Linked DNA regions of Homo sapiens. The protein of the gene in region 4 purifies or fractionates together with the protein of the main gene of each other region. This does not show direct contact. Each region holds a gene or a part of one and is shown on either strand. Other genes may lie near its edges.

What was found.
Region 1: the proteins of ZNF750 (region 4) and LRBA purify together in Homo sapiens (affinity purification with mass spectrometry, with the first as the bait; one study listed by BioGRID). This does not show direct contact.
Region 2: the proteins of ZNF750 (region 4) and ZNF185 purify together in Homo sapiens (affinity purification with mass spectrometry, with the first as the bait; one study listed by BioGRID). This does not show direct contact.
Region 3: the proteins of ZNF750 (region 4) and ZNF516 purify together in Homo sapiens (affinity purification with mass spectrometry, with the first as the bait; one study listed by BioGRID). This does not show direct contact.

The regions. Positions count from the first base shown.
Region 1 is NC_000004.12:150,847,737-150,851,304, forward strand, and holds part of LRBA (lipopolysaccharide-responsive and beige-like anchor protein), read right to left. Parts: intron 3,167-3,568; coding exon 2,988-3,166; intron 1,840-2,987; coding exon 1,686-1,839; intron 1,263-1,685; coding exon 1,082-1,262; intron 1-1,081. UniProt on the Homo sapiens protein: Involved in coupling signal transduction and vesicle trafficking to enable polarized secretion and/or membrane deposition of immune effector molecules. Involved in phagophore growth during mitophagy by regulating ATG9A trafficking to mitochondria.
Region 2 is NC_000023.11:152,918,567-152,922,134, reverse strand, and holds part of ZNF185 (zinc finger protein 185), read right to left. Parts: intron 3,153-3,568; coding exon 3,054-3,152; intron 1,808-3,053; coding exon 1,724-1,807; intron 1,429-1,723; coding exon 1,387-1,428; intron 1-1,386. UniProt on the Homo sapiens protein: May be involved in the regulation of cellular proliferation and/or differentiation.
Region 3 is NC_000018.10:76,362,686-76,366,253, forward strand, and holds part of ZNF516 (zinc finger protein 516), read right to left. Parts: intron 1-3,568. UniProt on the Homo sapiens protein: Transcriptional regulator that binds to the promoter and activates the transcription of genes promoting brown adipose tissue (BAT) differentiation.
Region 4 is NC_000017.11:82,829,956-82,833,523, forward strand, and holds part of ZNF750 (zinc finger protein 750), read right to left. Parts: intron 2,682-3,568; 5' UTR 2,500-2,681; coding exon 1,064-2,499; intron 923-1,063; coding exon 187-922; 3' UTR 1-186. UniProt on the Homo sapiens protein: Transcription factor involved in epidermis differentiation. Required for terminal epidermal differentiation: acts downstream of p63/TP63 and activates expression of late epidermal differentiation genes.

The DNA.
Region 1 (3,568 bases), on a different chromosome or scaffold from region 4:
TTGTTTTGTTTTTTGCTTCACCTAAGAAGTCCAGTTAACATTAAAAAGTCATTTCATGTATTTTTACTTTTACTTAGGGAAGAAGTGTTTCCAGGAGAAGAACAGAGATTTCATGATTTTATTAACTGCATTAACAAATTACCACAGCTTTTTTGAATAAAGGCTGTACTTGAATGATGCTAGTTTAGAACGTTGTTATTCCAGTGTGTTTGTAAGAAAAGCAGCATCAACATCACCTGGGACTTGGTAGTCAATTTTAGGCCTTACCCTAGACCTCTATAACCCTTTTTTTTTTTGAGACAGAGTCCCGCTCAATTGCCCAGGCTGCAGTGCAGTGGTGTGATCTTGGCTCACTGCAATCTCCAACTTCCAGGTTCAAGCGATTCTGCTGCCTCAGCCTCCCAAGTAGCTGGGATTATAAGCGTGCACCACCACACCTGGTTAATTTTTGTATTTTTAGTAAAGACGGGGTTTCACCATGTTGGCCAGGCTGGTCTTGAACTCCTGACCTCAGGGGATCCACCCACTTTGGCCTCCCAAAGAGCTGGGATTACAGGTGTGAGCCACCACCCCAGCCTAGACCTATATAATCTAATCTGCATTTTAACAAGATCATCAAATTTATGAATCACCTTGTGTTTTTTAATCACCTTAAGTTTATGTATCTCCTTAAAATTTCAGAAGCACTACTTTAGAGCAAAAAGAGATAGGGGAGCACCTCTAATTCCAGCTACTAGGAAGGATAAGGAGGCGGGATCACTTGAGCCCAGGATTTTGACACCAGCCTTGGCAAGAAAGCAGAACCACCATTTCAGGGAGAAAAAAGAAAAAAAAAAAAAAAAAAGATAGGGGAGAGTGGAAACTCCTGACCAAAATCACCTTAGTAAATTTTTCAAAATACATCCTCCTTCTTGCCCATCCAACTTACCAACTACTACTATGTACATTAAAAAAAGTAACCATATGACAAATTAGCTAACATATATTTTCTCACCAACAGAAGACGGATAATTTTCAATGTCATCTCTGAATTACTGAAAAATTTTTTTTAGTAAATTCCCAACGGTTTTTAGCAGCTCACCTAGTCGGAGACACTGCCGCAAAATTCCTCCAGATGACATACTTTTTTCAGCTTCAATTTCAGTAAAGCCAAGAGAACTTGCAAATATAAGCACATCCACAAGGCTAATTAGCCTCTGCAAAAATGTCACAGAGGCTTCTATTGAAAGGCCTTGAGTAGGTTCAATATTTTCCAGTTCATGCTGTAAAGAATAAAGTTTGACATTTATATATATATATTCTGAAAAAAAAATTTTACCAGATATAGTCCTAAAATTTATAAATTGCATAAGTAGTCAGACTTTCAGAAACCTAGTAACACAGAGTGATTTATACTTATTATTTCATCTAAAAAGGGTGGGGGATGAGGAGGAGCAACAGAACCATACAGGTGAAACATCATGAACCACATTCTTCACTAGCTGACTCATACTTAGGGAATCAACATTCTTTTAAGTTCTTTCATTACTAGAACAGATTCTAAGGTCCTCTCAAGTAAAAGATCCTATTGTTTTTTATTTATAGCACCTACGATGCATAGTAACCACCACATTTAAGTTTTAGTCAATAAAGTTGCATAACACTCATGTTTTCACACCAATTTTCTATAGTAATTAAGTCCTTACTGTAGCCGATGTAGCAGCTGAAAGCAATGGCAGTATACCCCCACAAGCCATGACCATATTGTCCATCACTTGAGAGATGAGATGAATTGTGTTGTGTACAAAGATGACATTATCACTGCTATTCACGAAGTCCATAACTGTCTTTGTTGAATGGCTGTCCAAAGATAAATGATATTTACTGATAAAGCTAAAGAAAGGAAATCACAGTTTGCCTACTTGAGGGGAGGAAAGATAAGAAGGTGCTTTTGCTTCATCTTGAAAACTGAAGGAAGATGATGCAGCAGGCATTTGGAGGGTGTATACTTCTTCAGAAGAAACAGACCATTCCATATCAGTAGTTACTATCCATGCCCTCCTTCAGTGCTGAAACATAAATACTATTCATTTTACACTGGATATAAAAAGTTGAAGAAAATTATCCTTACTGGGAACAAAACTAAGAAATCATGTGACAAAAATTAGGAGGTAAATACTGGTAAATGTGCTATTAAAAATGAATTTTCTTCTGTAATGCCTATAAAATGCTTTTAAACATAACAAGAATCTTACACAAATAAAAAAAAATAAATTAGGTCACTTTAAAATCATAAATCATACAATGGGGGATAACTTGAAGTACACAGATTTTTTTTAATGCTAAAAATACATTGGAAATATTGATAATGTTATAACAATTTTTTTTTTTTTTTTGAGACAGAGTCTCGCTCTGTCGCCCAGGCCGGAGTGCAGTGGCGTGGTCTCAGCTCACTGCAAGCGCCACCTCCCGGGTTCACACCATTCTCCTACCTCAGCCTCCTGAGTAGCTGGGACTACAGACGCCCGCCACCACTCCCAGCTAATTTTTTTGTATTTTTAGTAGAGACAGGGTTTCACCGTGTTAGCCAGGATGGTCTCGACCTCCTGACCTTATGATCCGCCTGCATCGGCCTCCCAAAGTGCTGGGATTACAGGCTTGAGCAACTGCGCCCGGCCTATACCAATTATTTTTTAATACTTCTAGTAATAAACCAACTTGATAAACCTACCTTCTGGTGAATTCCGTGCCATAAAATTGCTACAGGAAATCTACTACAAATTTTTTTAAAAGAGAAACCTCTGCTTTTCACATTTTTGTAATCCAGATAAGGATTCCATTCTTATAATGGAGAATAAAAGTGAATTCAGTAAAACCCTACCATAGAATAATTTCTATTCTACTTTTTAACCAAATGTCTGAAATTAATTACAAACTGTTTCTATGGATTTCTTTGAAAATAAAGACTAGGTTTATACACATCTTCCATAATAAACATATAGACAAACCTTCTCCACATCTGTATATCTGTTTCTATTGAAAATAATAGATCAGTGAGCAAACGTTGATGCATCTGAGACCAGTTGAACTCAGGAATACGAAACACAGTAGATCTGGAATCCCTCCTTTGTCCATTAACTGCATCTGGTGCTATTCCTTGCCCTGGCTGCTCATGTTGCCTTGATATCTAATACAGAAATTTAAAAAGTAATAAAATAGGTTCAACTTCAGCAGGAGGCTTTAGCAAAGTAAATAATTTAGTAGCTTCTATGCAATTCATCTAACACGTTTTTAAGACACTATAAGAACCAAATTAGAGAAAGAAAAATTATCAATGAGTAATAACATTAACATTTTAGTACATGTAAGCAAAGCTATCAAAAGTGCAAAACTACCACAATTTAAAAGTAATTAACTTGGAACCATGTTAAGTATTACCACTATGTAGCATTTTATAAAAGAATCAAGTAACAGTTCTTAGTTTTTAGCCTTAGCCTAAAAGAAAGGCAGTATTTAGAATCTAAGTGGCATTTGGATTATGAAGTGGCTAGAATGAAGAATAAAAACAGAGATAACATAATGAAGAACC
Region 2 (3,568 bases), on a different chromosome or scaffold from region 4:
GGCTGCCCTAGAGCTTGGAGGCCTCAAAGAACATGCTTCCAGTGGCGTCTAACTGACCCAACCCTTCAGGATCACGGCCAAGAGGTGGCCCAGGCTGGGGGTTCAGTGACTCCAGCTCAGGATAAGGACAGCATACTGGGTTGAATAGTGTCCCCCCAAAATTCATGTCCCCTGGAACCTGTGACTGTAACCTTATTTGGAAATAGGGTCTTTGCAGATGTAATCAGGTAAGATGAGGTCATACTGGAGTAGGATGGGTCCTAAATCCAATGACCGCTGTCCTTGTAAGAAGAGGGAAATCTGGACACAGACACACAGAGAAGAGAAGGCCATGTGAAGACAGACGCACAGACTGGAGTGATGCAGGTACAAGCCGAGGAACACCAAGGATCACCAACCACCAGCAGAAGCCAGGAGAGTGGCCTGGGATGGTTTCTCCCTCAAAGCCTCCAGAAGGAACCCACCCTGCTAACACCTTGATCTAGACTTCTGGTCTCCAGAACCGGGAGAGAATCCCTTTCTGATGTTTTAAGCCACTCAGTTTTTGGTACTGCGTTACAGAAACCACAGGAACCAAATGCAGCCAGGAAGACCCCCCCACCGCCCCCCGTTCTCTGTCACTTCCTTTGTGCTGCCACCATCCCTGCTCTCTGTATTCCTGCCAACTTCCTGGTCTTCCAACACAGCAAGCTAGTCCCACCCCGGGCCTGTGCACTGGGGCCCTCTGCCTGGGGCAGTTGGCATGCTGTCTTCTCTTGGGTTTGCAGTCCCCAGCTAGCCACCTCAGCACAGAGAGAGGCCTTCCCTGTCCACTCAACTGGAAGTCCCTCAAATTCAAGTTTCCAGAAGTTTCTTTCTTGCTTTCCCCCGAATATTTTCCTCCTCCAGAAGGTGCCCTGTCTCAACTAATGGTGACACCCCTCCCTCATTCAGCTGGAGTATCCCGACGTTCTGATCATTCCCTGTTAAGCCCTGTTCACCCTTTAGGGCCCATCTCCAATGTCACAGTCACCTCCCAGGGGAAGTTCTCCTGATGGCCCAGGTTTTGATCCTGGATGAGAGCAGAAGGCAAGGCATCAGGCAAGCAACAGGGGCAGGGGAACAACTCCCAGAGGGCCTTGGAAATGCTCCACGTTGGGTCAGGGGCCCAGCCCCATTAGCCATTGGCAAATGGAAGAGCTTGACCACATATGCTACCACAGCCACCCAGGTGCTTGCCAGGCCTCCAGACAGAAGCCCCCAGCCCCTCACAACTCCCCCTGCTCAGGGACAGTAGTCCCCCACATCCACATCCCCTCTCCACAGCTCCCACACTACACCCCTGCTGACGGAAGGCCTTCCTGTGGCCAGTAACAGGCCTCCAAGGTGTCCCTTGATGACACTTACCTCTTCGCGATAAACGGTGCCTGTGTCTCCTGGGTAGGACTGCTGGAAAGGAAGCAGAAAGGCAATGCTTTGGGCAGAGCCCGTGGGCAGGTGACATCAAGACCGCTCTACCTCAGAGGGTCCTGGGCCCTCTCCATTCCCGGCACTTCACTGTCCCTGGTGGTAGCCGCCAGACCTCTCCATTTTCTAGAAAGTACATCTGAGAATCTGAGAAGGCTCAGCTAGGAAGGCCCTTGGGGGTGATCTCTCCACCCACCCTTTCATCAGCCAGAGAAGGCTGGAGCTCTGAGGAGAGGAGAGCTGTCCTAGAGCCTGGAGCCAGTTGGTGGCAACTCACCCAGTGCTCTTCTTGGCCGCTGACAGGACGTAGGAGTGCTCCCGGGGAGCTGTCCTCCTCAGAACACCGCTTGCAGCCTCTGACCTGGGGTGACACGGGATGGGGGAGCATCTGATGGGTGCCAAGCTGGACATGCTCTGCCAGCCTAGCCTGGGATGGACTCGGGGTGACTTAGGGCCACCCCAGGGAGGCAAGGGGTGAGAGAAACCAGATTTGCACCTGCTCCAAGGACTATTCAAAGGAAATGTAGAACCTGAAGGAAGGGCAGCCCATGTTTATGGAGCATGTGGCATGTGCCCGGCTCTGCGCCAGATGCCAACATCCTCGCATTGGCTTATTGCTCTTCTCAATCCAGGAAAGTAGACGCTAGTATCCTCTGTGATTTACAGATGAGGAAACTGAGTCCAAGAAGCTTTCATTATTTGCCCAAGAGCACTCACCTAGCAGGTGGCAGAGCTGGCATTCAATGCTAGGCAGCTCCTAGCTTCTGGCTCTTTTCCTTGCTCCACCCAGGCCTGGGGGCCCCTGCCACTGTGAACTGTTCCCTGAGGATAGCCAATCTGCCAGGGCCTTTGGCAATGGGGCTTTGCTGTGATTCCTGCGCCACAGATGGGTCAGCAGATATGGACCTGGTGGCTGGCTGAGCCCAGGGAGGGGAGGGCTTTATTTCCTCAGGGCCCAACTGCTGTACAGGCCCCAAGCCAAAGGCATACAAAAGGTGCTTAACAAACCCTTCCTGTCATAGTTCACCAGCACTGGGTGGTATGTGGTCAGTCCCCATGGACAGAGGACTGAGGAGGGGCAAGGGTCCATGGAACTTTGCTGGCCTGTGTGGACGAGGGCAGCTTGGCGCAGAGACTAGGGTAGAATTTCAGCAGCATGGGGCACACTCCCACTGCTGTGCATGCCTGGAGCTCAGTTTGGGGTCCGGGGCATTCAGAACCCCCAAGGCATGCAGATCATGCAGATAGAGGGCACTGTGCAGGTGGCTTCTCCCTGAATATTTTTGTTCAACTGTCTCAGGGCCCTTTCTAACAAACCGATTTAGAGCCCTGAAGAGCCTCCACATGAGGAGGCTTTTCCCCGGACCCACATTACCTAGGTTCTACCCCACAGAAGGTTCTCAAGGGCCCCTCAGCTGGTCCAACACTGAGTGGGTGGTTCTGGCACTCAGAGAATGACACCTATTCTCATGCTCCGTGGGCTACCGCTGATGGCCTACGTGTTGTGCATTTTGTCACCCCAACCAGTACAATTCATTCCAGCAGTCTTCGAAGACTCAGGCTCCTGCCCTGCCCCCCGGGATGCCCAAAAGGCACCATTCCATTACCTCCGTTTCTGTTCATCTGAGGAGAATGGCACCACCTCCTCCTCCTCCTCCTCCTCGGTGTCCCCTGATGTAGAGCTGCGCCTGATATTGTAGGGTGCCCTAAGAGAGGGGAGAGGCGCTTTCCTGTCATAGGCTGCCACCCTCAGCAGCTTGGCTTCCTGGCTTTCAACAACAATGACGAGGCAAGTCAATATCTCTGCCTTTGGGCCTTAGGTCATGCCACTTGTTCCTCCCTGAGACCAGCTCTCCCCTCCCTCCCTGTTCGAGCCTCTCCCCTTCCCCAGAAAGGTTACCCAGCAGCTCCCCAACCCTGGATGATGGAGGCAAGGGACAAACAACGGAAAGATGTGGTCCCCTGGGAACTAGAGACACAATTCACACCTCTGTCCAGAGAACCCTCCTCCCTGAGCATGCAGTGGGGGGTGGGGGGCTTTGAAAGGGACCCCAAGGGGAGCACTAAGGGAAAACCCGAAGGTTTCTATCCAAGAAGCAGCTCAGATTTAGGCACACAATGC
Region 3 (3,568 bases), on a different chromosome or scaffold from region 4:
ACCAAGTAGGCGAAGACCCCCTGACCTGAGCTGTAACTCATTTCATAAAATGAGCAGCAAGTATTTCAAATGTGCCTTCCTGCCTTAAAGAGAGGCAGCTTGAAAACGAATCATTTCCAGTGTGATTTAGAAAGGATCATTAGGCTTCTCTAATGGTTTCACATGTAAGAATGGCAGATGATAGTGTCTGAACCAGCTCTGGAGAGAAGGTTACAAGTTGGCAAGATGAGGAGGCGGCCAGATTGTAAAACTGTATAGTACAAAGCAGATTTACAAGTGAACGGTAGTTCCAAAACAAGGCTGAATTTGGGGGTCATACAAACAAAAAGAAGAGCACGGCTCTCACGTAGGTCTGTCAGAACTTCAGAGCGTGTTCACCCATTTCCATAAACAATTACCAAGTTGGAAAAAGGGAAGGAGTATTCTAAAGTGAACTGCGAGAGAAAACCAAGCATAAATGGGGGTCCACAGCTTTCAGAGAATGCTCTCCAATGACATTTGAAGCATCCCTGTTTGAACAATAGCATTTACAATCTGAGGACAGAAACAGTATGGCCAGATTAATCTTACTTAACTGCATTAACCTTCAGCTAAAATCTTGATGAAGTGAAACTGACCAGTGGAAATTAACATGCATACATAAACTAAGGGACTCGTGTAAAATTCTGTTTCCAGCTATGCCTATAGGAACCCCAGAAATAATGGCGGAGTGGGGGAAGGTCTGGTTGACATAATGAATTAAGGGCTTTTCTTTAGTTAATAGTTCCAGAAAACTCCTACTTACAGCTGGCTCTGTGTTTGTGACATCTACCAGTTGGCATGTAGTGGAAGTCAGAAAGATACTGGACAAAATTTTACGAGGGGTTAGGGGGTGGGCAAAGTGGTGGAGACAGCAGTTTATTTGAAATGTAGGAAACAGTAATGGAATGAGAGATGTGATAAAACTTCCCTAAGTAGATGGTGAATTTCCTGCAGTAAACGGACAAAGACTGTTTTACATTTTTGTACAGTGACGTCAGGCCGTGAAGACATCTCTGAGGTTCTGATGGGAAATATTCATCATCAACAGGGCTCACTAAGAACCAATTCCAAATACATTCTGGAAGGAAAATGGTCTTCGTGTTTACCAAAGAAAACTGGGAGTTATAGTTAGCTATTGGGTGTTTGGCCTTGACCGTCTCTGCATAGCAAACATAGACGTCAGGGACCGTAAGAGGCGGGCAGGGGATGCCTGTGAACACAGGTGCTGTGTGTGCCTAGATTGCACATGGACAGCACCCCCAGGGCACATCCACCTGGGTAGCTCTTCTTTTGGACCAGAAGTCACAGACTTGCATTGGGTTAGGCATCAATGGACTGTTCCAGAGGCAACAGGAAGACGGCCCTCCGTCCATGAAGGGCTAACGTTTTATATTACAGGGCTCAGAAGGCTTTAAAAATATTTATTTTGGAAGCACTGCAAAGTCGGGATAAGCCAAACAACTAGGTGGTTAAATTGTGTTCACAAATCCAGATGCAGAGACGCCCATTTTCTCTTCATAACTGAAGGGATGTGTTCCAATACCTCATTTTTTTAAGATAGTTGCTTTAAGTTATTGATTCACCGGAGGCCACCATGTTATTATTCAATAAAGCAGCCCTAGAGCATTTTTAAGAAATGAATAAAACAGGGAAGAAAGGAGGCAGAGAAATATTCAAATTAAGTGGACACACTATAATCTTTTGAGCACGCCCACCATCGCCTTGTCTTCCTGGAAGGGAAAGAGTAGTCAAAACATGAGAAGCTTTCGGAAGATTTCGCTTTTCTTTTCTGCAGCTGTGAACTGTGGGCTTTTCAGTAATGCTGAAAGACATACTATCTTTCTTGAAGGTATTTCAGTGTTCTAGGGATGGATATTGACTACTGGGACTTCACGAGGTCCACTTTCTCTCTTTCTTTTAGTAAGGCAAGGGAAATGTGTATGTAGTGGTGGGTGTGGATCGATGCCCCGCACACAAAAAACCTGCCATGCCCCAGGACACACGGGGCACCTCTCGGCCTTCAGAGGGAGGTCAGCCTGTAAACAGGGCTTGTGGTCAGCCACGCAGGCAATGCTAAGTGCCTGAGGACCAATTATGCACAATGCTTTACTGACTAAAACCTTTACCCAACAAACCATAAGTAAACAAAGGCTATGTGACTGGGGGGATTTTGGGTAATTCGCCAAGTCTAATTCATGATTTTTGGTAGCATATTATATTTAGAGAAAATGGAAAATGTGTTTTAAGATGCTTGTTTGGTTTAATAAATAAGAAAAGCTTAAGCAAATGAGCTGAATTTCAAACTCTGATCTGTGATGCTGAGACTCTGAAAGTGATACTGAAAATAGATTATGCATATATTCAAATGTACCAACCTACGTGATTTCTCCATCATTTGCATTATAATAGCCACAGCTAAAAATGAGACAAATTAGGTCGCCATTTGTTTTTTCATTTCCTGTTATTTTGATTAATGGAATTATTTATCCAGCTTAACCATTTTAAAATAACATTTAGAATAATAAGAAATAAACTATTAATCATAGTCTTTAAATTCTGGCAAGGAATCCAAACAAATCAAAACACCAGATTTCATATTTCAGCAGACATTCTGGTCTTTCAATAAATCCCAAAACCACGAGGTTGGGGTGAATAATTTTTCTTGGTTTCAAAAATCATTTTAATTTCTAATGTTTAACAACAATGCAACAAAAAAAATCAATTTCTCTGCAACACTAAAGAAACTTCCTAGTTTTTCCTCTAACATCCACAGGACAAAACACCCAGATTTCAACATATTGTTTTCAGAAAGTGTTCTTTCTAATGATGAATGCTGATGATTACTAGAAATTAAACATTTATTCAGTTGTGCTAAATGGATGACCAAGCATCTTTTAAACGACAACATGCATGAGCTCTTTCCCTCATTTAGAATTTGATTTGGAGGATCAGCGGTCCTTGATATTGGAACCATCTTAATCCAAAACACAGTAAAAGCACCAAGGACAAGCACCGGTGCCACCGCCGGGCTGGAAGAATCACCCACAAGAGCGGATGCCCTCACAGCTGGGCTCCTGAGGCCCAGGGCCCGGACCCTCTCACCATCTTCTAGCTTGTCTACGATCGAGGCAAAAGAGTGAGATGCCTAAAGGGGTGTGCTGTGAGCATCCACAGCCTACGGGAAGCCCTGTTATTTATCCTCCATCTCTGCCTTCCAAGGCTCCAGGCATCCTTTCCACCCTTACCACCTACCAAAGGAAGGTGTTCAGAAAGAAATGGCTGCTTGACTATCTGGTTTTCATAACCTCCTCTACAGTCTTCAAGTATGTGTATATAACATGGAAGAGGCTTAAACAGTGCGTGTGCTGAAAAAGACTGCCACTAGTGTCACCACGAAAGGAAACTACTTTATTTCTCTTCAAGCTTCAGGTGTGTGCTGATCAATTAAACTGACTTTAATTATTTATTCCTGATTCTAACCTATGGTGAATTTAATCAATTTCAGCAGATTTACCTGGCCCTCGTGCCTGTTGAATTGTTTTGCTGA
Region 4 (3,568 bases):
ATTCATGCTTAATATTTATAAAAACTGAATTGGAGGGTTTTTTGTTTGTTTGTTTGTTTGTTTTTTTGAGAAGCAGCAGCTGCATTTGTAAAAATGTGAAAGTGCCAGTTCAGAGGTGTTGTAGCTTGCCACCTTGGAAGGCGTGTGTGTGGCCGTAGCTCTGTGAACACACGTGTGAACCCGGCGTTAGGACACCCGGGCCCTCCTTCGTAGTGTGAACACTCTGGCCGTGTCCTGCAGCTTCGCCTTCTTAGCTCCTTGCTGGGATTTTCCAGCATCCCTTAGACTTGTCCTCTTTTGTCCTTTGGGTCTGAGGTCACACTGGGCCTCTTGGCTCTCCATGGAGCTCAGTGTGGGTGTGTCTTGCCGGCAGGCAGGTTCCGGGGCCGCAGCATCCCCATCGCCCACCCGGATGTTCCTGGGGCTGTAGGCCGCCAGCTGGCACAGGGCCACGGCTGCCGTCTGCTTCTGCTCCTCGCTGCTGTCCACCGCGCATGCGTCTGGAGCCTCCTCGCCGGGGCCTGTGGGTGGGGCCCCGTCACCGTCGAGGCTGCCTGGCTTGGTCTCAGGGTGGCTGGGCCCATCCTCAGAACCTTCTGTCCCAGTCTTCTGTGGAACAGCAGCAGCAGGTTCTGCAGCTCGTGGTCGACCGGGGAAGGCAGGCCTCGGAGCCTGGGTGTTACAGGGGTCCTTCACCGAGAGATTGAGTGGAAGGTCCTGCAGCTCTGAGAAGCTGGCGGTTTCCGCCTGGGGGCTGCCTTGGTACGTGGGTTCGTGGGTGGCTGCCAGGTTTATCTCTGATTTCTTGGAGAGGTTGAGGGGGCCCATCCCGGAGCTGTCGTCCGGACTGGAAGGCGCGGCCTCCGAGACGAGAGAGGCGCTTCCGGTCGGAGCAGGAGGGTCTCCGTTCACAACATTGAGGCTAGAAGAAGCCAAGAAAAAGCTTAGTAGGAGCTTGCTTAGAAAAGCAACTGCGTGAAGCAGTGTGAGCAAGTATAAGCCTGGCTCATGGAACCCAACCAGAAACATTCCCTTGGAGGTTTTGAAAATGACATTTTCTTACCTTACTGGAGACTCTGCTGTGGTCTCAGCAGCCTGGGCAGGTAGGCATTCTGTGCTTTTCTTAACAGGCCTGAAGGCTGTGAGGCTTTGCTCTGGCGGGTAGAGTCTTCCCAGTGCGCTGGAGGCTGCCTTGTTGGAGAGGTCGTACAGGCCTTCGCAGGTCTGGCTCGTCTGCATGAAGTCGGTGGGGCTCGGCCTCCCTGGGGAGCCCGTGGCTGCACTCCCTGCGCGGGGGCTCATTTTGGACCCTTCCGTGTCTCTCTGCCCAGCCTTGGAGGAGTCTTTAGCCTCAGGAATTGGACTTTCGAACTCGACGTGTTTTCTGTTGGGGTCCGAAGGGTTTAACCTGGAAGGACTCGAGGCTGGATAGACCAGGGTGGCTTCTTCAAGCAGGTGAGAGCTCTGATCTCGGGTGAGGCCAGTGACAGGTGGGAGTCTGAGACCATAGGAGGAAAATGCAGACTCTGGCCTGTAAAATCCGTAAGGAATCGGCAGGTTAGAGGGATATTGCTGGAAAAACCTGTAGTGATCGTATGTGGCTGGAGATGGAGCCAGGTGCTTAGGGATCGGCCCCGGGTGAGGCAGGAAGTGTCTCGGGTCTTGGGTTCCGTAGACTGACAGCAGGGGTGCGTCACACTCAGGCGAGCTCCCAGCCAGCAGGTAAGGCGAGTAGATGGTGGCCAGCCCGTGCTCTGTGTAAAAGTGAGGCGGGTACTCTGGGATTGTGGGGTGCATGTAAGGGGAAATGGCCCCAAGCCCCTTTGTAGATGAGATTTTATGTGGAAACTCTGGTGGAAGGAAAGGTGAGCCGGCTTTCCAGGGGTAGCCAGGAGTGTGGAAGGCCGACTTGGTGTGGAAAGACACGGCCTTGGCAGTGGGGTTGTGTAAAGCCAGTGTCTCGGGCGCCTCGGCGTTGTCTGGCCCCTTGAGTCTGTGCTCGCCGACTGGAACAAATGCAGAAGGCCGAGCTGCGCCTTCCAGAGCAGGCTGGGCACCGAGGGCGGCTTCCGGAGCTGGGCTCTTGCAGGGTGATGCCCTGTGGAGGGCTGGCTTCTGTCCCAGGCACCTGTGGGTTCCCCGGGCTTGCAGCTCCAGGTTTTCCTTGATGTCTTCCCTGGCAGAGCTGTGCTGAAGCTTCGAGTCGAAGGCAGAGAGTCCATTTGCGACAGACTTGGAAGAGGCTGGCTTCGCCGTGGCATCGGGCTGGTTGGTTTGCTTGGGGTCTAGTGAGTTAGATTTAGGGCACTTGGGAACTCGATCCTGCTCTGATACTAAAGTAATCGAGTTTTTACAAAGACCATACTTCATGTGATTAAAAAGATGTGACTTCTCATTGCAAGTAAAGGGACATTGGAAACATTTATACTTGAAGGGCTTTCCTGGAGGCCTGGGGATGTAATGTGGCTTTTTTGGCTTCCGCTCTTTGAGGAGACTCATTTTCCTCCTTATGCCTTGGACTCTGGCTGTCCAGGTGGCGTGATCACTGTCGACGCCGCGTGCACTTCGTGGTTTCTAAAGAGGCACCTCCCGCTTTGCTTTCTTTCCCGATCACTTCTATCAGAAGCCAGCTCTGCGTGCTGAGGGTCTGGCGAGAGCCTCCGTCATCTGGCGGCTGGGAGCTGTAATAAAGAGCAGTCTTGGTGTCAGGACAGCGAGTGAGGGGTCGGCGAGAAGCCGGCCTCGGCTCGCCACAGTGCCACAGGATCCCTGAAGCAGAACCCCTGAAGGGCTGAAACTGCCTGCTCCTGAGGGGAGCAGCTGCCGGTCACAGAAGCAGCCCTGCCCTACCCTTGGTAACCTGGCTGCTGACTCCCCACCGTGTTTTCTGTTTTCTGAGTCTGATCTGAAAGAGTCACCTCGGGGCCTAGAGGTGGAGTGTGGTGTGTGGTGCGTTGAGTGTCTGTTCTGAGAATGCCTGTAAGCCTTTGAGTTTTGGGAACTTTCATCCTGTGACCTGGACCTTTCCTCGAAAGCGCCCTGCCGGGGGCTGAGGACACCGAGCCCCCTCCCAGGGTCTGGACAGAGTCCTGTCCCAGGGCTGCCCGACTCTGCTTGGGGGTTACACGCTTGAAGCAGTGGGTGTGTGATCGGCCACACTCTCACGTGAAATACGAAGGGGTTTGTGGCTGTTTCCCCTTAACATGTACCCACAGTCACAGAGTGCCCCTCACTTTTACACAGAGCGTGGGCTGGCCACCGTCTACTTGCTCCTACCTGCTGGCTGGGAGCTCTCCCAAGTGCTGTGCGCCCCTGCCGTCGGCCTGTAGAACCCAAGACCATGGATGCTGCTGCCTCCCCTGGGGCCGATCCCTAAGCACTCGTGGCAGTTTCTGCCCACTTTAGCCACGTCGTTGGTGTATTCTAGTGTGCTTGTTTAAAAATGAAGAACATTCGAACACAAGACTCTACCCTACTGCTTCTAAAGTCAGCTTTATCATTAAGTAGCATTTATGTTGTCTCAGATATGAATACAAATGCTATATTTATGTTGACTTAAATGGTTGAA